7 linked regions of the Homo sapiens genome follow. The protein of the gene in region 1 interacts with the protein of each later gene in a biochemical or structural test. Each region holds a gene or a part of one and is shown on either strand. Other genes may lie near its edges.

Region 1 (3,500 bases):
ACTTAGAGCTTCTCCATCAACATCTTCAGCGATTATGACCAAAGGCTTACGGTGAGCATTGGCAATTTCAAGAGCAGGTACAATGGACTGGATACTAGAAATTTTCTTTTCACTCAACAGAACATAGGCATCCTGGAATTCACATTTCTGACCTGTAAAAATAATGAAGATTTCAAAAATATACAAAAAATGACTGCAATACATTTAAATGAAAAGCGAAACCAAGGTTCCAATACACTTTAAAATTCACCAGTGAGTTGGTTTTCCTCCTTCATTTCTCATATGCATTAACTTTTGGAATATATACATTTATTTTTTAGAGGATGACACCAACTAATACCTATAGTTTGACACATATTAGAAAGTATATTTTAAAAACTTCAGGAGGCCAAAGCAGGCAGATGACTTGAGGCCAGGAATTCAAAACCAGCCTGGCCAACATGGCTAAACCTTGTCTCTATTAAAAAATTCAAAAATTGGCCAGGCACAGAGCCTCATACCTATAATCCCAGCACTTTGGGAGGCCAAGGTGGGTGGATCACCTGAGGTCAGGAGTTAAGAGACCAGCCTGGCCAACATGGTGAAACCCCATCTCTACTAAAAATACAAAAATCAGCCTGGCATGGTGGCGTGTGACTGTAATCCCAGCTACTTGGGAGACTGAGGCAAGAGAATCACTTGAACCCGGAAGGCGGAGGTTGCAGTGAGCAACGCGCCACCACATCATGCCACTGCACTCCAGCCGGGGCAACAGAGAATGAGACTCTGTCTAAAATAATAAAAATAATAATAATTCAGTTATTGATTTGTTCTTACCTTTTGATGTATTAATAAAGTATGGAGAAATATAGCCTCGATCAAACTTCATGCCTTCAATAATTTCTAATTCATCATTCAGTGTTTTTCCATCCTATGAAAAGTCAAAGAATTAGGTATATGGATTTCATTGAACACAAAACATGGAATTACAGGCCAGATTAATAAAAACAGACCCCTCTGGCCATAAGAGATGCAGGGTAGAGTATGAAACAGCCCAGGACATCCAATTACACTTCTGCAAAAAATCCCAAAAGTGCTTATTTGAATAATCATTTAAGTTAGGATGGATTCATTTCATGCAGCAAAGGCTAATTCACATAAAACACAGTAAGTACTTTATTCTATACATGTGCTGAGACTACATATGAAGGAATAAAAAAAGCAGTTTTTAAAACAGAATTTTTCTGTTTGAAAAATTCAGTTTTGATCATCAGATAACTCAAACTTTTGATCATAAGATAACTCAAAATTATCTTTAAAAATACAAACACACTTGCCTTTACTGTGATGACACCCTTTCTTCCAACTTTTTTCATTGCATCAGAGATGATATTGCCAATTTCTTTGTCTCCGTTTGCAGAAATCGTAGCAACCTGAAATAATCCAGTTACTCTTCGAAATTAAAAGGTAAGCCTAGTGTCCTCAGTCAGTTCCCTTACCTTTTCCTAGTAACTTCCAAATTGATACTTCCATCCAGGGGAGAGAAGGGGAATTTACGTTATGGTAGTTTTCATGAAGTACTGGTTCTTTGCTCTTTTCCGATTCATTATTTGACTACATTGTTTTGAAGAATATGATACATAAAACTATTCTTGTAACAAAAAGTTTAAAAATGCTGACTTCATTACAAACTGACAAAACTTATGCACCTTTGACAATGGCTAAGAACATTTTCACAATCATATGAATCCATTTTACAGCCATGTAGAACTAAAATGACAACCACATGTAGAACTAAATGACAACCATTATGGTCATAATTCTTTTCAAAGGTTTTAGCAGTAAGAAACAATGATTCTAATATTGATGATTGGGTAGTATTGTTATTCTGACATTGGTGTGATCAAGGGAAAAAAAAAATCACACATGCCATTAAATTTTTTTTAAAAAACGTGTAACATGTTAAGTCCTTACCTGTGCAATTTCTTCAGGGGTGGTCACAGGTTTAGACTGCTTTTTAAGTTCAGCAATTACAGCATCAACAGCTAACATCACACCTAGTTCAACGATATATGTCATTACAATGTTTATTTCTCTCATGGCTTCTATGTCAAGTAGAAATCTTGAGATTTGTGACAAATATTTTAATGCCTTAACTTAAAAAAAAAAATTTTTTTTTTTTTTGAGACAGGGTCTTGTTCTGCTGCCCAGGCTAGAGTGCAGTAGCACAGATCATGGCTCACTGCAGCCCTGACATCCTGGGCTCAAGGGAGTAGCTGAGACCACAGGCTCAAGCCACCATGCTCAGCTTCTTTTATTTTTGTAGACAAGGTCTCACTATGTTGCCCAAGGTGGTCTTGAACTCCTGGGCTCAAGCAATCCTCCCACCTCAGCTTCCCATGTAGCTGGGACTACAGGCATGTACCTATGCTTGGTCTTTAGTGCCTTAATATTAAATTTACACACAGCTTCTGAGACAGTGCTTCTTAATAACACAGAGTTGCGTGGCATGTACTTAAACAGTAACTTTAGGTTCACACAGTAAATAAAATCTCACAATGCCAAAATTTTGAAAATAGGACTAAAACAAGGTAGATGTGTGTAGTTTCAAAAGTCTCACCACTGAACTCATCCTATGCAAATTCCTAACCCAATCATGCTGTTTCCAATAGGGTCCACGACACTTCTCATGTCCATTAGATGATGCAAAAAAGGACCAAAATGGCTAACACTCCCTTATTTTCAACAAGAAGTACAGTTCTTAAATGATAGGAATCTGTTGTGACTATGCCTCTGCAGGTGTCAATTATCTGAAATCCCCTCAATTTAGTACGTATTATGAACTAACAAAATATTTTTGTTTTACATCAGTCTTAATAGTCCCATTTTGCTCAATTGGGAATAGTGCTAGCTCTCTTGTTTGAGAACTGTTACTTCAAAAAAAATCCAATGCAAGGTGCTGGTAAGTCCTCTTCATAACCTTAATTAATACTTGTTAGTGATTTACAGTAAAACTGCTTTTAGTGAAGTATATTCACTTGGCCCATAAACACTGAAATAGATGAGGTAATGATACATTAGTAATGTAGTAATAAATTAGTATGCCAATTCTGACAAAAAATTACCAATAGCTCCCCCCACCTTCACTTACAAGAGGGTTCCTGGTTTGAACCCTAACATACCCTAGATATACATAGCAATTCTGCTGATAGGAAAACCAAGTCTTAGCACACAGCTAATAAATGACAAACATGGGACTAGAATTTAAGTCTATACTGCCATGAACCTCATGAGGAGGAGCAAATTGTTAATTAAGTTGCACTCTAGTTACAAGCACTAACAAAACACAAACCAATAACATGGTGTGTGCTATTAAGAAAAAATAAACTGAGGAAAACATTACTTTCTGACATTCTGAATGATCCAGTGTATTTAGTCTTACTTTCTACAAAACTAAACTAAAAATTAGCCAGGAATGGTGGTGAGTGCCTGTAGTAGTCCCAGCTACTTGGAGGCTGAGG
Region 2 (3,500 bases), on another chromosome or scaffold:
ACAGGCGTGAGCCACCACACCTAGCCATCTTTTTCTTATGACAGTATCACTCTTTTGCCTAGGCTGAAGTGTAGTGGTGCAATCAGGGTTCACTGCAGCCTCAACCTCCCAGGCTCGAGTGATCCTTCCACCTTGGCCTCTCGAGTAGCTGGGACTATAAGCGCACGCCCCCAAGTCTGGGTAATCTTTTTTTTTTTTTTTTTTGAGACAGAGTCTTGCTCTGTTGCCCAGGCTGGAGTGCAGTGGCACAATCTTGGCTCACTGCAAGCTCTGCCTCCCGGGTTCACGCCATTCTCCTGCCTCTGCCTCCCGAGTAGCTGGGACTACAAGCGCCCGCCACCATGCCCAGCTAATTTTTTGTATTTTTAGTAGAGATGGGGTTTCACTGTGTTAGCCAGGATGGCCTCGATCTCCTGACCTCGTGATCCACCTACCTTGGCCTCCCAAAGTGCTGGGATTATAGGCGTGAGCCACTGCACCCGGTTAAGCCTGGCTAATTTTATTTTGTAGAGATAGGGTTTTGCCATGTTGCTCAGGTTGGTCTTGAACTCCTGGGCAAGCACTCCACCTGCCTCGGCCCCTGAAAGTGCTGGGATTACTGGTGTGACTGTGCCCCATCCTCTTTTATGTTTATCCAACTTAGATCCCTTTAGCTGCAACTGAGGCCCCTCCCTTTTGTGTTTTTTTTTGAGATAGGAGTCTCACCACCACACCCTGCTAATCCTTATATTTTTAGTAGAGATGGGGTTTCATCATGTTGGTCAGGCTGGTCTGGAACTCCTGACCTCAGGTGATCCAACTGCCTCAGCCTCCCAAAGTACTGGGATTACAGGCATGAGCCACTGTGCCCGGCCTGGCCCCTCCCCACTTTTTTTTTTTTTTTGAGACAGAGTCTCGCTGTCGCCCAGGCTGGAGTACAGTGGTGCAATCTCGGCTCACTGCAGGCTCCGCCTCCCGGGTTCACACCATTCTCCTGCCTCAGCCTCCCGAGTAGCTGGGACTACAGGCGCCCACCACCATGCCTGGCTAATTTTTTGTATTGTTTAGTAGAGACAGGGTTTCACCGTGTTAGCCAGGATGGTCTCGATCTCCTGACCTCATGATCCGCCCGCCTCAGCCTCCCAAAGTGCTGGGATTACAGGAGTGAGCCACCGCGCCCGGCCAGCCCCTCCCTTTTTTTAAAAAAGGAGATGGGGTCTTGCTATGTTGCCCAGGCTGGCCTCGAACTCCTGGGCTCAAGAAATCCTCCCAAATTAGCCTCTGATGTAGCTGGCACTATACGTACGTGCCACCATGCCTGTCTGCCATTTTGTTTTGACCCAGCGACCATAAGAAGTTTCTTTTTTTTTTTTTTTGAGACGGAGTCTCGCTCTTTCGCCCAGGCTGGAGTGCAATGCTGCTATCTTGGCTCACTGCAAGCTCCATCTCCTGGGTTCACGCCATTCTCCTGTCTCAGCCTCCTGAGTGGCTGGGACTACAGGTGGCCGCCACCGTGCCTGGCTAATTTTTTGTATTTTTAGTAGAGACGGGGTTTCACCGTGTTAGCCAGGATGGTCTCGATCTCCTGACCTCATGATCCGCCCGCCTCGGCCTCCCAAAGTGCTGGGATTACAGGCGTGAGCTACTGCGCCCGGCCGACCATAAGAAGTTTCTAAGTCAGCCTTTTTTTTTCCTTTTCTGAGATGAAGTCTCATTCTGTCACCCAGGCTGCAGTGCAGTGGTATGATCTCGGCTCACTGCAAACTCCGCCTCCTCGGTTCAAGTCATTCTCCTGCCTCAGCCTCTCGAGTAGCTAGGATTACAGGCGTATGCCACCACAACTGGCTAATTTTTGTATTTTTAGTAGAGACGGGGGTTCACCATCTTGGCCAGGCTGGTCTCGAACCCCTGATCTCAGATGAACCGCCCACCTTGGCCCCCAAAGTGCTAGGATTATAGGCGTGAGCCACCGTGCCCAGCTATGTCAGCCTTCTCAGAAGGGACTTCATGCTAAACCTGTGTGTTTCCCGTCCGTCTTCCTTCTTTGTGTACTTGTTTGGTGAGAGAATGATCTAGAACACCCTCATTTCTGATTCCCTTCTAGGCACCGAGATCATTCAACCAAGGAAATCCACTGAGCAGGATAATGCTGCAGCACACACCTCGCTTAGTTCAGGGAAATTGTCCTGCTGACAGAAGGGGCACTGCCACAGCCCTGTCTCATCATTGCGGATCGCCTGGTCATAGCTCTCACCCTGGGGACGCCTGTGGGCAATGCCAGTGACATTGCAGATGATGAGCTTTCCTGCAAGAAGGAAAAGAGGATGGGGAGCAGGCTCAGAGAATGTGGAGAGCACTTCTTTCCACCAGCCTTTCAGTGACAGAATATCTGACTTCCTTCCCATCCTTGAAGAGGGAACTCTTCCCGATTTTTATTTATTTATTTATTTTTGAGATGAAGTCTTGCTCTGTTGCCCAGGCTGCAGTGCAGTGGTGCTATCTTGGCTGACTGTAACCTCTGCCTCCCAGGTTCAAGGAATCCTCCTGCCTCAGCCTCCCGAGTAGCTGGGATTACAGGTGCCCACCACCACGCTCAGCTAATTTTTTATTTTTAGTGGAGATGGGGTTTCACCATGTTGCCCAGACTGGTCTCGAACTCCTGGCCTCAAGCAGTCTGCCTGCCCTGGCCTCCCAAAGTGCTGGGATTACAGGCATGAGCCACTGTGCCTGGCCGTTCCCCTGATTTGATGATAGGGGAAAATAAAGCCTATAAGAAGACTAACTGCATGAAGATTCCATAGCACACTGGAAGCACATTTGACCTTAAATTCAGTTTTGATTTCCAGTCCAGGACTCTTTAGTCTTTTAAAATGCTCTCCTGGCCTTCCCCATGTACAACACAAACCTGCCTCAATCTGTTGGAACTGCTGCTTGGTTTGAATGTACACAGTAAACACACCTCCTGCCCCCAATAAAAAAATGACCCCAGAATTTACCAATGTAGAAGGTCTCTGGTGTTTCTTTGGTTAACATATTGAAGATCTCCTCTGTGTTGGGAGAGCGGTAGGCTGTCCGGAGGTCCTTATATCGACAGCTCAGCTCTGCCCGGATGTCATAGAGTGTGATGTGTTTGTCACCATAGCCCTGGGGAAGAAGCCCATCAAGAAGAGCCTTGCAGCTGCCCCCCAACCTGAGCCTCAAGGAGTCCCGTGGAAGGGGCGGGCCTCTCCAGATGGGAGTAAGTTTCTGTCAGGGCTTCTTCTTTTCTTTCCATCAACATTTACTAAAGGTGGTTTTCAAACTTAGCCATGAAACACTGTAATCAAAATGCTTTATGGAACCCCAATGAGTCCACAGATAAATGCAAAGCTGTGCTGTTAGAAAGGAGGAAAGGGGGCCTAGACGGAAACTGTAGTACTGACATCCTCCCAACTCCCTCCTGCCCCTTGTAATTATGGTGGCAATCTCTGAGACTTCCCTGGCTCCTTAACAAGCAGACCAAAAACTTCCTTGAGGAGCCC
Region 3 (3,500 bases), on another chromosome or scaffold:
TTGAGACCAGCCTGGCCAAGATAGTGAGACCCTGTCTCTACAAAAATAAAAACTTAAAAAATTAGCCGGGTGTGGTGGTGCACACCTGTAGTCTCAGCTACTCGGGAGGCTGAGGCAAGAGAGTCACCTGAGCCTGGAAGTTGGAGGCTGCAGTGAGCTATGATTGCACCATTGCATTCCAGCCTGGGCAACAGAGTGAGACCCTGTCTGTAAATTAAAAAATAAATAAAAATAACAATAGGAATCAGTGGAGTCCATCTCTGCATGGCTGGATGACTGACTCTTCTTCCCTCGTGTGTCCCCAGAAGGCGACGATGACCGGACTGTGTGCCGGGAGATCCGCCACAACTCCACGGGCTGCCTGCGGATGAAGGACCAGTGTGACAAGTGCCGGGAGATCTTGTCTGTGGGTGAGTCGGGGTCCAGACCACAAGCCGTCCCCCCTGATCCCTTGTGTCCTGGGGTCACTGGGGCCTCACTGGTGCTGCCTTTATGGAGTCAGACAGATAAGCGTTTGGATTCCAGCTCTGCAGCCTTTGAGCTGTGTCCCGGGGCAGGTCCTGAGCCTCATGCAGCTTCGGTTCCTCATCTTAGAATGAGATGATGATGCGAGGCTGTCCCTGAAGTCGGTGAGATGTCGTTAGAGATGCAAAAGTGCCCTCCACCTGGTCGGCCCCATGTTGAAAAAAGCTTGTTGAAAAAAGTCATCCCCCTGGGACTCCCCGGTGATTCTGTTCCCAAGCGCCAAGCGCAGTAGGCATCTTCATTTTCCTCTGCAGATTATGACATTGCAGACAGTATGTGTTTTGTTTAACAAAACTGACCAGAGGCCAGGCACTGTTCTAAACACTCGACATACATTTCCTCATTTCCTCAGAATGACCCTCTGAGGAAACTGAGCCACAGAAAGGTTAATAACTTATCCAAGATTGACCCCGACATGGGCGAGCTGGGCTTCAATCCTAGGGCGCTGTGTTCTCTCCTGGGGCCCCTCGCAGCCTCTGGCCACAGAAGTCACGGGTCTCAGTACCTGGGCATCCAAGCAATAGTCCCTTTGGTCGGTTGGTTGGTCCCCTAGGCAAAGGGAATATTTCCCTTTAACTGTCCCCCTCCGTTTCACCAGCTCTGGTTATGGGTTAACTTCTTTCCACTTAGAGATAACAGCTGTGACAGTATTTGGACTAGTTCCTGGTACACAGCAGTTCATACTCACAAAGAGTTAATTGTTTCCCCTTGTCAACAGCTTATCGATCTGGTGGCTTTGCTCTTACTTAATGCTTAGTTTGAGTTTGCCATGGCAGGCCGCCAGGGTCTAGTTAAACATTCCTAGCCTCACTCCTATAATTTTAGAAGCCACTGCAAAATAAACAGTTGTGCTTTAACAGGCTGAAGTATAAGTTGCTGTAGATGAGTGCACAACCAGGCCTTGGGGCTTTTTCTATAAAAAATATCATAGAGTGGCATCAATTACATGGTACCTCACCACAAGAAAGTCATGTTAGGGTCTGAGAAAAGATGTCCAGATGCCTGTGCCCAGATTGGACCTCTTATGCTGATTTTTACTCTGTTGCCCAGGCTGGGCTCAGGTCTGGCGCCAATCTTAACAGTCATTGATTACAGTTGAGAGTGCAGCCAGCGCCAGTCTTATCAGTCATTGATTATAGCTGGCGTACAGTGGCTCTATCTCGGCTCACTGCGACCTCCGCCTCCTGGGTTCAAGTGATTCTCCTGCCTCAGCCTCCCAAGTAGCTGGGAGTGCAGGTGTGCACCACCACACCCAGCTAATTTTTGTATTTTTAGTAGAGACAGCATTTCACTATGTTGGCCAGGCTGGTCTTGAACTCCTGACCTCAAGTAATCTGCCCGCCTCGGCCTCCCAAAGTTCTGGGATTACAGGTGTGAGCCACTGTGCCTGACCTGAGATAGATTCTTAGAGAATTATTGGTAAGAATAATTCTCTAAGCTGAGCTAAATAGTCTACACTGAAGAGGACTGCCTACTGTTATTTAAGGTGCTTGCAACCATATAAGCACGTACTGCCTGGGAACTCTAGATGAGGATTTCTCAATTTCAGCGCTGTTGATTTTTTTTTTTTTTTTTGAGACAGGGTCTCTCTCTATCACCCAGCCTGGAGTGCAGTGGCACCATTACAGCTCACTGCAGCCTAGACCTCTTGGGCTGAAGTCATCCTCCTGCCTCAGCCTCCTGAGTAACAGACTACAGGTGTGCTCCACCATGCTTGGCTAATTTTTTTATTTTTAGTAGAGATGGGGTCTTGCTACATTGCCCAAGCTGGTCTCTAACTCCTGGGCTCAAGTGATCCTCCTACCTCAGCCTCCCAGAGTGCTGGGATTACAGGTGTGAGCAGTGCTGACATTTTGGACCAGGTCATTCTTTGTCGTTGGGGGCTGTCCTGAGCAGTTCAGGGTGTTTGGCAGCATTCCTGGCCTCTGCCCACTAGAGGTCAGCAGCTCCCTTCCCTTTGTTGTGACAACCAGCTTCAGAACTTGCTAAATCTCCCTGGGTGACAGCGTCACCCCAGTAGAGAACCTCTATTCTAGACTAAGCCTCAGCTCTCAAGGATTTTTCTTATTTTATTATTATTTTTTTAAGACAGGGTCTCGCTCTATCACCCAGGCTGGAGCGTAGTGGCGCAATCTTTGCTCACTGCAACCTCTGCTTCCTGGGTTCAAGCGATTCTCCTGCCCCAGCCTCCTGAGTAGCTGGGATTACAGGCGTGCACCGCCACGCCTGGCTAATTTTTATATTTTTAGTAGAGACAGGGTTTCACCATATTGGCCAGGCTGGTCTCAAACTCTTGACCTCAAGTGATCAGCCTGCCTCAGCCTCCCAAAGTGCTGGGATTACAGGTGTGAGCTAGTTTTTCTTATTTTTAAATTTTTTTTTGGTAAAATAATGAAGTTTATTTATTACATATTTATTTTCAAACTGGCATCTTGTTAGTAATTCTGTTTCTTTCCCCACCTAACATTTTGTTTACTATAAATGATTGCAGTCATCATCCTAAAGCATATGCAAAATCTCCCTTCCCCTGACTCACGTTTGATGTACCTGCCTCTGGATATTTTTGAAATACCTTAGGGGGAGAAAAACAGTAGTTTTAAGAGCTAGTGGACAGTTTCCAGGTCTTAATGAATCTGACAACCTGCAGCCCAGGGCCAAGAGGAATGAATTCTCTTTTCCCTGCTCTCTTGATGAACTCACTGACCAGCCATGGGCGGGCAGGTGGGCAGGCAAGGACCCCTGGCCACCAGGTGCCAGTGCATCAGCTGCATGAACTCCTGGCACCAGAACTGCCACCTCTACAGACATGCTCAAAAGACAAGTTTGGACCGGGTGCATTGGCTCACACCTGTAATCCCAGCACCTTGAGAGGCCGAGGTGGGTGGACCCCTGAGGTCAGGAGTTTGAGACCAGCCTAGCCAACATGGTGAAACCCTGTCTCTCCTAAAAATACAAAAAAATCACCCGGGGGTGGT
Region 4 (3,500 bases), on another chromosome or scaffold:
TCCAACTCCACCATTTGCAAAAAGTAAACGGACTCAAACTGGAGGATCCTGTTTTAACAGAAATTTAGAAATAAAATGTGTGCCTTCTGTCAAAACTGTACATTTATTTGTCTTAGAGTTATTGATGAAAACACTTGCTGTTATACCAAGTACTGTGTGGATGATTAGAATTAAAATGAAAGGAAAATTTTGATTTAAAATTATCCATATTTTCAATTTCCTGAGTAACCTTTATTGTGAGAAAAAGACCATTGAATAAAATCTGTCAGCTTTGATTATGTAAATCACTCACTGTGGCTTTGTCTCTTCGGCCTTAGCTTCACTTGGTTCACTGGAACACCAAATATGGGGATTTTGGGAAAGCTGTGCAGCAACCTGATGGACTGGCCGTTCTAGGTATTTTTTTGAAGGTTAGTTGATGACCCAATTCTTTTTTTTCCCTATTTTTAATAAAGAATGACCAGACAGAGTATTTGTAACATACAGGACATTCTACAAAAGAGCTTAGGAAATGCCTTTGTCCCTGAAATGTTTTCAAGTTTATCTCCTCCTTTCATATCTGCTAGTTGCAGTGGAGATGGAGGGCAGAAAGACAATAGGAGAGGTACTTATTTGGTACCTTTTGGATGTAAATGTGAAGAACATAAAGAGATCAACTTGGGTGACTGCTAGGTGTTTGTTTGTTTTCTTTTCATTTAACCTGAGGCTAGACAGTACTATATTATGATAAAGTAAGATCAGGTTCTGAAGAGGGGAAGGACAGTGAATTTCAGGCAACAGTGGGACAGAACCGGTTGAGCTGCCCTCTAAACAGTGGTAAAGGGGAATGGAGAAAGGTCTGGGCTGGAGATTTATGAGCTCTGATTCATATGTTGAGGTGGAAGCTACAGGTGTGTATGAAATCATCCAAGTACAGCACGAAGAGGGAGATGAGAAATCTGCCCAGGGAGCAATCCTGAGAAACTGCAAAATGTAAGGCCTTTACAAGGGGAGAGATGCAAATTAAACAACTTAAAAGGGGCCAGGTGTGGTGGCTTAAGCCTGTAATCCCAGCACCTTGGGACACCAAGGCAGGAGGATAGTTTGAGGCCAGGAGCTCAAGACCAGCCTGGGCAACATAGCACAATTCCATCTCTACAAAATTTTTTTAAAAATTAGCTGGGCATAAAAAACAAACTAACAAACAAAAAAACAAAACAAAAACAAAAACACAAAATTAGCTGGGCATGGTGGTATACACCTGTAGTTTCAGCTACTTGGGAAGCCAGGGCAGGAAAATCACTGCAGCCTAGGGGTTGAGGTTGCAGTGAGCTATGATCATGCCACTGCACTACAAGCTGGATGACAGAGCAAGACTCTGACTCTAAAAAAAAAAAAAAAAAAAAAAAAAGCGAGAGTCAAGAGAGATTTGGGTTGCTGGAAGGCGTAGGGAAAGCCAAAGAAGAAAATAATTTTTAAAAAGAAGGGAAGACCATAGTGTAAAGTCCTACAAGGAAATCAAGGCAAGCCCTTGAGGAGTATCCTTTGGCAGTTAGAGGTCACTGGGGACAATTGAGCTGGTGGTTTCAGGACTACTCTCTGAGTGGAATTAGAGGCGAGTTGAAGATTCAGTGAAAGTAGGCAAGTCTATGGTGTCAGTGTCATCAAGCCAGTACTGATGGGGGTCATGTATGAAGTGGAGAATTTGGGCTCACTATTTGGATGTTTTCTAATAGAGCTACCCAAATAAAAATAAAAACTGGTACAGTACCAACTGGGTGATAGTATCTTGCCCTTTATGTTTTTCTTTAGGTTGGCAGCGCTAAACCGGGCCTTCAGAAAGTTGTTGATGTGCTGGATTCCATTAAAACAAAGGTAAATTTGAATTTTCTGCCACCTCCTTAGGGTACCAATTTTCAATACTCCATTGGTTTTAGAAATTTCTTTTGATCAAATTGCACAGTCTCAATGACATGTGGTGTTTGGATGAGCAGTTAGTAAAGGTAGAATATTACTTAAATATTTAATTAACGTTTCTTTCAACAAAGTTGATCCTAATGCTAGCATAATTCTAAGACTTGTATTTATTTAATCTTGCTCCCCCATCATTTGGACATCCATATGTAAGAGTCAGAGAATCTTATGCCTGCAAGGAGGTTCAAAGGTCCTCTAGTCAAATTATTCACTCATTCATACAGCAGATATTTGTTAAGTATGTACTATGTGCCAGTCGCTTTGCAAACTAGTAGACACAATGGTGAACAAGATAAACAAGGCCCTGTTTCATGGAGATTTCTATTCTATGACCTCTTTGCATTCATCCATCCTGCATTTAAATCCTCTCTGCAGCATAGTTGTGTTGAGGTCGTTGAGCATCTGTTTAAACACTACAGTCACTTCCGGTGATGGGGAACTTATCACCAGGGGCAGCCCTGGCTTTATAAAGCTGATCTTCACATTGAAGCAGCATCTATCCTCTGAAATGCTCACTCACTGGCTTGAGCCCCTTGAATTCATAGAATAAACCTGATCTCTCTTCCAAATAACTCTACTCTGTCTCTACTTTGTTTTTTCACCTACCCCAAACTAATTATCTTTAGTTTCCTTTAACTATTCTCATATGATATAGTTTTCTCTCTTTGCCACCACCTTGTCATTCTTCCAGTAAATCATTCCTGTTTGCTTGAAAAGTGTAGTGTCCAAAACAGAATGTAGTTATTTGATTCTGACCTAGAGCAAGAAAATCACCTCCTCATCAGGATACCATATTTCTGTTATTGCAACTTGAAGTCACCTCATTTTAGTGGCAGCAGTCTCACTTTAAATACTGGGTGTGATCAGCTAATGACTTAATGGGGAATGTAAGGGATCATTTTAGATAAAAGGCCAAGATGAAAAATGGACATGTGAAAATAGTTTTTTTTTTTTTTTACTACGACTTGCCACATATTTTCAAGTTGAATGTCTTCTGTTAATTTCTCTTTATTTTGTTTGCCAGTGAATATAGAACCTCTTTTTTAAAAAGTGTTTTTGACCATCAGAGGGGAGTATACCTATTTGTGTCTGCTGCTCTCCTACCTTCCTCCTACTCTGTCAATGTGATAGTTTGAAGCTGCGTATTTGCCTTGTTCTAGGGCAAGAGTGCTGACTTCACTAACTTCGATCCTCGTGGCCTCCTTCCTGAATCCTTGGATTACTGGACCTACCCAGGCTCACTGACCACCCCTCCTCTTCTGGAATGTGTGACCTGGATTGTGCTCAAGGAACCCATCAGCGTCAGCAGCGAGCAGGTTTGTTTTGTAATGACAGGTCTGTTTACGGGTGGAGCATTTAGTCAAGGCAGAAGACCTTGGCCTCCAGAGTGAGAGAGAACTGAGATTTAATCCTTCTCCTGCTACTTCTTGCTATGGAAATAGTGCCTTTGATGGTGCCTAGCAAATAAACAGCGTTCAGTAAATCTTTGTTGTTATTAACTATAAACTTAGTTCGTTTAGTCTCTAAAATTGAATAGTCATTGTAAG
Region 5 (3,500 bases), on another chromosome or scaffold:
TTGTCATACCCAACTAAATCAGAGTTGAGGGGCCAGGGGAAAAAAGCACTCAGGGTATAAAACATTGCTCCAAGAATGTAATTCTCTGTAAGCCTGACTGCTGGAACTGCTTGTTGTAACCTGAAACCAGTTTTATCTATAGCTTCTGAGATAACTTGCTGCAACTCTAGAACTGATTTTGCCCACCACTCACTGCTCGCCAGTCGGAGCTTGCTAGCTCCCCCAAACCTTAGTAGTGCCAATGAACTTTCTCAAAGAGCAGTAACATTTCTCCTTTTAAATAAAACCTCTAACCTTCCCTTTGTTCTTCAGACATATGGAAGGTCACTTGTCTGCATGTATGCCCTAAACTGCAATTTTTTCTTCCCAAACACAATGTTAAATTTAGAGAATTCATCGCAAAATTTTTATTTTGCCTTTGATAATACTAAAAGGTTGGGACAGCAGAGCAAGGTGAAGATAGAAAAAAAGGAATCCAGAATCAAGTCAGGGGAGATGAGAGAGTTGATTTAGGTGGCAGTGGATTTTTGTCTCAAGATGGAGGGAAACAAGAACAAAGTAATATGTTAAGGTGAAAATGAGATCATGAGTCTGTTCACTGTGATTTCATTAATATTAATATTAATGTGTATGTTCTATAAGATATAAAGTAGCAAGTTTATGGGGGTGGGGGTAGGAACTGATATCTATACCCTTCTGTGTGCCAGAAACTTTACATACAAAATTTCAGTGAGTCTTCAAAATCACCCAAAAAAGTTGTCATTATTCATCTCATTTAATAGGTAAGGAAAGAGGTTCAACAAGGCTTACTTGTAACCTGCCTAAAGTCACAAAGTTATTAGGTGCCATAGTAGACATCAGAAACCAGGTCAGTGTTTGCTACTCCAAGTGTGTGAGTGGTAGGGGGAGAGAGAACTGCACCTTCAAGAAGTTTTAATCACTGTGGAGATTCTGATAGTGAGATCGTAAAAAATTATAACATGAAATTAAGTTAACTTTCGTGGATGGGAGACTATTTAAATCTTACATAATGGAGGCAATTTTGGATTTTCTAAAGATGGTGTCCAGGCTACTATAGCATTACAGTAAAACTTGTTTATTTAATTTTTGGTTCCAACGAGGTTTTTTTTTTTTTTTTGAGACGGAGTCTTGCTCTGTTGCCCAGGCTGGAGTGCAGTGGTATAGTCTTGGCTCACTGCAACTTCTGCCTCCTGGTTCAAGAGCTTCTCCTGCCTCAGCTTCCCGAGTAGCTGGGATTACAGGTGCTTGCCACCACGCCTGGCTAATTTTTGTATTTTCAGTAGAGACGGGGTTTTGCTATGTTGGCCAGGCTGGTCTCGAACACCTGACCTCGTGATCTGCCCACCTCGGCCTCCCAAAGTGCTGGGATTACAGATGTGAGCCACTGTGCCCGGCTGGTTCCAAAGACTTTTAAAAGCCACTTTATTGATATAAATCACACACCATAACATTTACCCTTTTAAAGTGTATAGTTCAGTGACGTTTAGTAGATTCAGAGTCGAGCAAGCATCACTCCTATCTACTTTTAGAACAGTTCCATCACACCAAAAAAGAAAACATTCTGTACTCATCAGTGGCCATTCCCACCCTTCTCACCTCAAGTTCTTTTAAAGCCACAACTTGACTGTCTAGACAACTTTGGAAAAGCATTTTCCCTCAATACCTTACTTAAGAAATATTTACCCTAAATTACTATAGTGTTTGGTAGAAAATTTTGTGATCACTTTGAGGATTCAGTTTCTTCTTACATTGGGGGAGAGGGGTGAAAAATGAAGTATCTTTAGAGTTGGCATAAGCAAGTGATTTCCATGTATAAATCTCTGCCCTCTTATTCAGGACCCTGCAGTGCCTGGCACTCAGCAGCTGTTCACTATATGTGTGGGACTGACCAACAAGTAAGGAAGTGGAAGGAAGAACAACAACAAAAAAGAGCTCTAACATTTTTTACTAACTGGTATCACTATTTCCCTGGCATGCTTGATAACAAAGACTTTAAATTTTCTCAGCCTTAAAAAAAAAAGCACAAGACACCAACATATGTTATATATAAATACAGAAGAAGCAACCAAACCCAATTACATGCATCACAGGAAGGTCGTAAAAAAAAATTACACTCATCATATTCGAGGAGAAATGCTGGCTCAAGTGAACATCTCCCCCACTGAGATTTCTTTCTGTTTGAGCTTAAGCTAGCCATAAACAAACTTGAGTAGTATTCAAAAATATCATTAAAGAGTTTCTTGGAATGGCGATATAGTCTGTGAATTTGAAATCTACCAAGGAAAGAGATAATCAGAGCATCCTAGCAACCAGAAGAAAGAACAGCATGAAGATGGAAGCAGGCAGCAAGATGCACATCAACAAATCTGCCCCGTCGCCCAGAGGCAATCAATGCAAATATTCTATACACTTTCTTCTCGGTTTTTACCTATGCCATTCTAGGAAGAACTTGGGAGAAAATCTATGTAAGCCTGAATCCCCTTAGCCTATATAGCTGTGTAGTTCTTTCCTTCCCATAGTGTTAAACTTGACTAGGATATAGTCCTTGGTTATTCAGATACTGTATCTAGGTGTTGCTTTGAAGGCATTTTGTAGATGTGATTACAATTCAGTTTTTTTTTTAAATTTTTTTGAGACAGGATCTCACTCTGTTGCCTAGGCTGGAGCGCAGTGGTACTATCTTGGCTCACTGCAACCTCTGCCTCCTGGAAACTACAGGTACATGCCACCACGCCTGGCTAATTTGTTTGTAGAGACGGGGTTTCATTATGTTGCACGGTTGGTCTCAAACTCCTGAGCTCAAGTGATCCACCTGCCTTGGCCTTCCAAAGTGCTGGGATTGCAGGGGTTAGCCACTGTGCCCGGTCAGACTTTAATCTGAGTGGGCTGAATCAATCAGTTTAAAGGCTTTAAGAGTAGAGTTGAGGCTTTCCTGAAGAAATTTCACCTGTACCACTTCAGCCCCTGCTGGAGAATTCCAGCTTGTCCTTTCTGATGGCCCGTTTTACAGATTTTTGGACTCACGTACCCAGCCCCCATAATTGTGTAAGCCAATTCCTCGCAATAAAACTCTTTAATATACCTGTATCTATCTACTACTGGTTCTGCTTCTTTGGTTGAATCTTCACCAATACACATGGGAAAAGAATACTATGACTACTGTTCCCAAGAAAGTAGTGCCCTAGGATACTGCATTCTTTTTGGTGATTATATTATTAGACTAAGAATGATTAACATGCCAGATCCCAGACCTTCCCCTTAGATCCTGATATGGTTTGGCTGTGTCTCCGCCAAAATCTCACCTTGAATTGTAATAATCCCCACATGTCAAGGGTGATACCAGGTGGAGATAAATGAATTATGGGGGGTGGTACCCCCCATGATGTTCTCGTGATAGTTAAGTTCTCATGAGATCTGATGGTTTTATAAGGGGCCTTTCCCCCTTTGCTCGGCACTTCTCCTTCCTGCCACCATGTGAA
Region 6 (3,500 bases), on another chromosome or scaffold:
GAAGAACCAGAAATAAAACCTGCCTTTCTAGACTGTAAGTCTTGTGATTTTCATCTAAATGGTTGTCTCTATACAGCAACTCATCTCTAGAACTGAAAATAAGCTTAAATCCCTCCTCCATCCCCAATAATTCAAGCTGCATTTCAGAGAAAACCAGGACTTTGGAATCAGACAGATCAACTTTGAATTCTTGATCTGCTTCTTCATAGCTATTTACACTTAGGCAAGTTTTGTTTTGTTTTGTTTTACGTTGCCACTCAGTTTTCTCATCTGTAAAATAGGGATAATAACACCTTCCTCAAATGGTTTTATTAGGACTAAAAGAGAGAATGTGTGGAAAGATGTTAGTGGAATTCCTGGCAGATAGTTCACATGGACAAAATGGTATTAACTACAAAAATTTTTACAGAGAAAACGGTAACTGACAAAAGCAGGTGTTTGGAATGAATTAAGACCATGGCAGCCTTTTGAGGCCTTTATATTTCTCCTGACTGTGCAATAAAAATATTTTGGCTCTCTAAGACTTGGCTGTCACAGTAGCAATGGTAATATTAGCTACTGTGCCAGAAGCAGCCTATCAATAGAGAAATTGAAAATCTGACCACACAAATGCTGCAGCACCCAGCTGAAATGCATTTGGATGACAATCTCAGATGGGAATCGAGAGCATCTCCTTCTGCCTTGCTAATAGCAAGCTGATTTTTAGAATATAGTCTAAGTGCTTCTTTTCCATCCTCCCCAGATTCTCACCTGCTACACACCCCTCAGAGGGACTGGAGGAGAACTACTGCAGGAATCCAGACAACGATCCGCAGGGGCCCTGGTGCTATACTACTGATCCAGAAAAGAGATATGACTACTGCGACATTCTTGAGTGTGAAGGTCAGGAGTGGTTCTAGAAAATGTTTTCATTTCTGCCCTTCACCTGTAAAATAATTTGTTGTAAAGCCCCTTCCCACAGGGATGTTATTAATAATTGAGTAACGTATTCACCTCTCGGAAAGAAGCAAAACCCCAGAATTAACCTGAATTTTTTTTTTTTCTGAGACAGAGTTTTGCTCTCGTTGCCCAGGCTAGAGTGCAACCGTGCAATCTCGGCTCACCACAACCTCCGCCTCCGGGTTCAAGAGATTCTGCTACCTCAGCCTCCCAAGTAGCTGGGATTACAGGCATGTGCCACCATGCCTGGCTAATTTTATATTTTTAGTAGAGACAGGGTTTCTCCACGTAGGTCAGGCTGGTCTTGAACTCTCGACCTCAGGTGATCCGCCTGCCTCAGCCTCTCAAAGTGCTGGGATTACAGGCATGAGCCACCATGCCCAGCAGACCTGAATTATTTTTATTAAAATGTTACATCAACATGTACAAATATAAAACTACATCTAAACTCTAAGTACAAACTTCTTATGCTTACAACTCTTACACAGTGTTAACCCCAAGACAGGTTTGCAATTAAATAGTTAAAATAAAACAACAAAATCAATAAAAATCAAATAAACAATATATATTTAATGTGGTAGACTTTGCTGTTTTGCTGAAGCTAAGCAAGGAACCAGTTTTTAAATCAGCAATCCATTATTTGAATGGACTGAGCAATTTAATAGTGCACCTCAAAGGTCAATGCTAAAAAATTTTAAAAAAATCCTACTGAAAAAACTGTCATCGTTTCACATTTCTGGCTACATTAGTGCAAAAGGGAATAAATAAAGGTGAGATTTGTGTGACAGTGTGGATATGGTACTGTGTGACAACTCAGTTCTCCCATCACTTCCACCTGTTCGAATCACGGGGATCCTTTATTTGTACACCATGTTATAGGTATTTGCCCTTAAGCACCACCAATGCATCACTGTTATATTAAGTCTGCCCGTTTTCCTTAGTACTCCATAAAATTTAAGTCACATATTACTCTGCCTCACCATGTTACTTCAATAATTCTGAATCAAAGTTTAAGTTTGTGAATAATTTTGCAAAAAAGAGCCAATCATGCTTCTCAACAACATAAAAAGAGAAGCGCTGTCACTTCAGGTGAATATTGTTCTCCCTGAGGCCATGAGCATAAACAAAAACTCCAGACTAAAACCCTGAGACGGTGCCAGGTCATTCAGCAGTCAGCGGAATGATCAGAATAATTTCATACAAAGTTTTAAAGATCATTATTGAAATGAAGATGCCAAATATTGAAAACTCCTAATGGAGAACGTAGACTCCTGGGAATATATGCACCCTTGGCTCCCCACTGGCCTGTGCATCCCGGTCTAAGGACATGGCATCATGGAAATTCTGAACTTGGTCATGACTACAATAGTTGAGGGAGTATTGACTAAAATATGTGAATGTTACGGTTTAAAAGGAAAATGACATTTGGATTATGCTAGAAAATCCTGAGTCCTTATTGCCAATTTTATTGCCAAGTGCCTGTTGTGAATTACATCGGAATGAGAGGCAAGTCGCACTTAAGTGAGTAGGATTCTGGTTTTTACTCTCTATTTTGCTTCATCCATTTCAGTTTTCTTCTTCCTCTCTGTCCTTCCTTCCCACTCTGTCCAGAGGAATGTATGCATTGCAGTGGAGAAAACTATGACGGCAAAATTTCCAAGACCATGTCTGGACTGGAATGCCAGGCCTGGGACTCTCAGAGCCCACACGCTCATGGATACATTCCTTCCAAGTAAGTCTCACTGGGAAAAACATTCCATGTTTAATTAAGGCTCTGCAGCTCTATCAGACATTTGCTGTCATTTAGATATTTTAGCATTCCTCAAGAAGTGAACGCCTGATGTTTTTAATTTCAAAGCTAACCTCCTCCCACAATATTGCAAGTGAAATACGCATTCTTGCTGCTCAAAATATGGTCCACGGGTCAGCAGCAGGGATGTTTTCTGAGAGTTTGTTAGAAATCCAGAATGTCACACCCTCTGAATCTGATTTGAATAATAACCAGATCCTCAGCTGATGTGCACACACATTCAAACACTAATGTCAGTAATGAATACATTAACATCTGTCTTCAGAAATGCACACACACATGTTGCTGGTGTATTTTCCAAATATTTTCCTTTTCTCTTTACTCCTTGTCTTTCTTTTCCCTTTGTACCAATGAGATTCAAGTCTCCTAACCTTTGACCTATGAGCAGACGTCATGGATTTTTGAATCCCTGATGTTTTATGTATATTTACATCAATGTGTTTTTCTGGAATGAGGATTCGTAACTTCCATCAGATTCTCTAAGGGGACCACGAATTTAAAATAAGAATAAGCTTCTTGCTCTAGAAAGTCATGATGGTTCCTAGAATAAGGTTTCGTGAGTATTCTATTTCACATTAATTGTGCTGGAAAACACCTCCCATTCCACAGTCGCTTCTGGTCTTCCTCTTCATTCTATGATGACTACAGGGCCATACCAGGGCTTTCAAGAATGCAGAAGTGAGGCTGAGCCACAGATTCCACGGTGGAAAGCAGCTCTATTGAATTTGTACACCTCCCATTCCAAATAGCT
Region 7 (3,500 bases), on another chromosome or scaffold:
ATGTACCATATAATTTTTTAATAAAACGAGATTGCCCAGTGGGAAGTGGGATTGAGGGGGACACAGATAGGGCTTCATCAAGAAGTTATAAAATCAAAACACAAAACGCTTTATAGCAAACGGGGCACAGGAGTACACCAAGGCTCCAAGTTTCACTTCCATCTTGAGAATCTGACAGGTGCACCTGTCTGTTTCTCCGGAGCTCTGTTAAGGCAGGTTTGAGGAGGTCTCTTCCCTTTGTTGTCATAGGGAAAAGTAGATTTGGCGCTGATGTTGAGATCGACAACCACAACAAAAGACCTTCACATGTTTGTCTTTCCTTTTGTCTGCAGGGGGTGCAGCTTTTATTTTCCCAAATACTTCAGTATATCCTGAAGCTACGCAAAGAATTACAACTAGGCCAGGTACGAAAACACCCCTGTGTGATCTCTTCATTGAGAGACATCCCAGATGTCCTGCTGAGATCCGTGCCCTAAGTCACGTGATACAAAGAGAGCTGATCCCGGAGCTGAAGCCAGTCCCAGACAGTCTTATTCTGCCTCTGTTGATTTGGAGACTAAATCCACTCAAACCATTTCATTCAAAGACCACACTAAAGGAATTAAGAGCAGATTAGCCCTTTAACTAGCTTTTCAGAAAGACAGATGGGCAAAGAAGGCATCCTGGATGCCTGGCAGTTAGGAATAGGCCGACTTTTGAACTAACAGAAGGATCTGTCCCTCCTCGGGGGAAGAGCACAAAACAAGGACACTCCCCAGATTCACAGTGACCGATTATCAGTATGTCACAAGAAGCCAGTCTTGCAGAGCAGAAGCATGCAACCAGTAGTATTTACATCTGAATCTTACTGCCTGTCCTCCAAATGATTTAATTAGGTAATAAATTTACATGCCATTCATGCAAAAATAAACATCTATCAAGTGCCCATTAGTGCCAAGCGTGGTGTTAGACTCTGGGAATATATAGATGAACCAGGCTTCAGTAAGCTTCCTGTCTTCAGAAAGTTTACTTCTTCATTCAGCTTGGTTTGTTCATTTGCTGAGTGCCTCCTCTGTGCCAGCCACGGATGGTATGATGGTGAACAAACCGAAATGTTTTGCCTCCAGTTCTAGATGTTTCAGTAGAGTGACCTAGAGCCAGAGAGACACATATGTACACATAAATGTTTTCCCTAATGTGATAGATTTTATGGTAGAGGAACCACTTCTAGCAATACAGGGCGTAGGAGCAGGGGTGGGGAGGAACTCAATCCCCCATGAAAGGCATAAAGATGCTTTCCAGAGGAATGGCCACATGGCAAAGGGGAATTAGATGTTTGCCAGACGAATAATGAGCAGGGAGAGAGGGCATTTCCCAGAAGGGTATAGCTTGCCTTTAGCATTTGTCCTCTCCCTGGGACTTACATCAGCCCGATAAGCTAGGTATCATTGTACCAGCCTCACAGCTGATGACATTGTGTTCAGGGTGGTGGGATGGTTTCTCCATATTCATACATGCTTCCAGAATTCATGTTAAACTCTATCACATATCCGGAATACACAAGTCTCAGTTCGAACTGGTTCAAGATCTAGGCTTGGCAACTACTCTTTCTTTCTAATGAGAAAGACTGGGGGCCCAGGGAGCTAAAGAGAATGAATGAGGAAGCTTCTCAGGCTGTTCAAATACTGACACTGCCCTGGTTACTGCCTAGTGACTTCAGGCTGGCAATTTTCTCTTCTCTAACGTCAGAGAAAAAGTTTACTGTCTTGCTCCTGGGAAGCATGATGGAAAGGCTTAGCAGCTAAGGGGTACTAAGAGGTAGTAAGTCATCTCTGTCATGTAAAAGATTTCACAGGCCATTGAAACATGGGCAAGACCCAGTGCCTAGAGTCTGCAAGATTGGTCCTAAAGACATCCACCACGTGTATTGCGAGTGGAAAATAGAAATTCATGTTTGACTCAAGCTTTAGAGATTTTGTAATTCTGTGAGCATTTAAAAAATATTTCCATATAAACTAAAAAAATAAAAACTATTTCCAAAACATTTGGCTAGGGTTTTAAAAATTTTTTTACTTTTTAATTTTGTATTTGTTTGTTTATGTTAAGACATCTCATAGGTGCCTCTGACTGAGTTGCAAAGCCAGGGGTTGTGAGCTAGTATTATAAACTGTGTTAAAAGATCACAACACTGGCCAAATTCATTGGCACAATCTCTCTGTCAGACAAGCCAGCTGACTGATGCTACCTGGTTAAGACAGTGGGTCCTGGAGCTGCTTTGTTTTCACATTTTAGGATATGGTGGATTTGGAAGGTATGGCCCATCCAGGTGGATGGAGAAGAGGGTGACTGTGAGGATGTTGGTTGGGACTCCCTCTCTGCCCAACCCAGGGAAGGCAAGGGTGGCAAACTCAGACACCTCCCATGCCGCTCTGATGGTGGTCTTCCATGGGCCCATAATTTGAGCGTGACCTGGGAGAGAGCACACTTCCACAGCTCCACTACTAGTCAAGTATGTTTTCGCGACTCAGTTTGTACCTGAAATAACCTGTTTTGACCACTGCTACTGTGATTATGAGAACCAATACAAATATTGGTATCTGACCTGTAAAGAATTTAAAGCAGACTGAACAAGCCAGAGGACTATTTACTGTAGGCCCTATTCAGGGACTTGAACTTGGAGATAAGAACTAGTTATACACCTCGGGTCATCCATTGCTAAGCGATCAACCTTAAAGGACTGCTCCTGTGGAGATAAAAGCTGTGAACCTGCAACTGGAGAATGAACGTCGTGATGGCTGAGGGGGAAGAGCTTTTGCATCACTAACTTTCAGAGCTGAACGAGCTCCAGAGGGAGGTCACTGGGAATCTGACGATATCCCTGTGGTCAGTGGGTACCTGACTACTTTCAGAAAGGTGATTGTTGACTGTTTCTTTGAAGGTCCTTGGGGATACAGACCCAAATCCCTGTCTCCTCCACTCTTGGTTTGCTGTGCCATGATCTTCATTTCCATACCCTTTGTCTAATCCCACATCCGAGGGAACCGAACTCTGGTCAGCGTTATTGTGCTGACCATGAAGCAAGCCAGGCTCCTAGGTAACAACTCTACTTAGACCAGAATCTGTCTCTTCTCTGCATGGTGGCCGTTTCATTATAGAGTCCCTGATAGAGGAGACAGTGGTGTTCAGGGTTTACTGGTTAAATTAGACAGCATTCCGCACCCTTTCTGCAGAGACTCCTACACATGTGTGTTGTCCTGCTGCATCCACCTTCCCAGCACTTCCTCACCACCCTTCCCTCCTTCCCTTCCCACTGTGAGTCACCCATCCCTGGGTTACTGCCCCAACCTACCTTTTCTTTTCTTTTATCTTCTTTTCTCTTCTTTTTTTTTTTTTTTTTTTTTTGAGATGGAGTCTCACTCTGTTGCCAGGCTGAAGTGCAGTGGTGCAATCTCGGCTCACCACAACCTCTGCCTCCCGAGTTCAAGTGATTCTTCTGCCTCAGCCTCCCGAGTAGCTGGGGC

Evidence for each region.
Region 2: the proteins of HSPD1 (region 1) and SUPT6H form a complex in vitro, tested with the Homo sapiens proteins (one large-scale study listed by BioGRID).
Region 3: the proteins of HSPD1 (region 1) and CLU form a complex in vitro, tested with the Homo sapiens proteins (one study listed by BioGRID).
Region 4: the proteins of HSPD1 (region 1) and CA2 are reported together in a solved structure, tested with the Homo sapiens proteins (one study listed by BioGRID).
Region 5: the proteins of HSPD1 (region 1) and DHFR form a complex in vitro, tested with the Homo sapiens proteins (one study listed by BioGRID).
Region 6: the proteins of HSPD1 (region 1) and PLG form a complex in vitro, tested with the Homo sapiens proteins (one study listed by BioGRID).
Region 7: the proteins of HSPD1 (region 1) and ERG form a complex in vitro, tested with the Homo sapiens proteins (one large-scale study listed by BioGRID).

What each region holds. Positions count from the first base shown.
Region 1 is NC_000002.12:197,493,341-197,496,840, forward strand, and holds part of HSPD1 (60 kDa heat shock protein, mitochondrial), read right to left. Parts: intron 2,037-3,500; coding exon 1,954-2,036; intron 1,413-1,953; coding exon 1,317-1,412; intron 911-1,316; coding exon 817-910; intron 153-816; coding exon 1-152. UniProt on the Homo sapiens protein: Chaperonin implicated in mitochondrial protein import and macromolecular assembly. Together with Hsp10, facilitates the correct folding of imported proteins.
Region 2 is NC_000017.11:28,689,705-28,693,204, reverse strand, and holds part of SUPT6H (transcription elongation factor SPT6), read right to left. Parts: intron 3,124-3,500; coding exon 2,976-3,123; intron 2,285-2,975; coding exon 2,142-2,284; intron 1-2,141.
Region 3 is NC_000008.11:27,601,201-27,604,700, reverse strand, and holds part of CLU (clusterin isoform 1 preproprotein), read left to right. Parts: intron 1-305; coding exon 306-410; intron 411-3,500.
Region 4 is NC_000008.11:85,474,007-85,477,506, forward strand, and holds part of CA2 (carbonic anhydrase 2), read left to right. Parts: intron 1-317; coding exon 318-410; intron 411-1,791; coding exon 1,792-1,854; intron 1,855-3,113; coding exon 3,114-3,269; intron 3,270-3,500. UniProt on the Homo sapiens protein: Catalyzes the reversible hydration of carbon dioxide. Can also hydrate cyanamide to urea. Stimulates the chloride-bicarbonate exchange activity of SLC26A6. Essential for bone resorption and osteoclast differentiation.
Region 5 is NC_000005.10:80,644,984-80,648,483, forward strand, and holds part of DHFR (dihydrofolate reductase), read right to left. Parts: intron 1-3,500.
Region 6 is NC_000006.12:160,712,244-160,715,743, forward strand, and holds part of PLG (plasminogen isoform 1 precursor), read left to right. Parts: intron 1-742; coding exon 743-882; intron 883-2,550; coding exon 2,551-2,671; intron 2,672-3,500. UniProt on the Homo sapiens protein: Plasmin dissolves the fibrin of blood clots and acts as a proteolytic factor in a variety of other processes including embryonic development, tissue remodeling, tumor invasion, and inflammation. In ovulation, weakens the walls of the Graafian follicle.
Region 7 is NC_000021.9:38,397,478-38,400,977, reverse strand, and holds part of ERG (transcriptional regulator ERG), read left to right. Parts: intron 1-332; coding exon 333-404; coding exon of another isoform or gene 405-616; exon of another isoform or gene 617-906; intron 907-3,500. UniProt on the Homo sapiens protein: Transcriptional regulator. May participate in transcriptional regulation through the recruitment of SETDB1 histone methyltransferase and subsequent modification of local chromatin structure.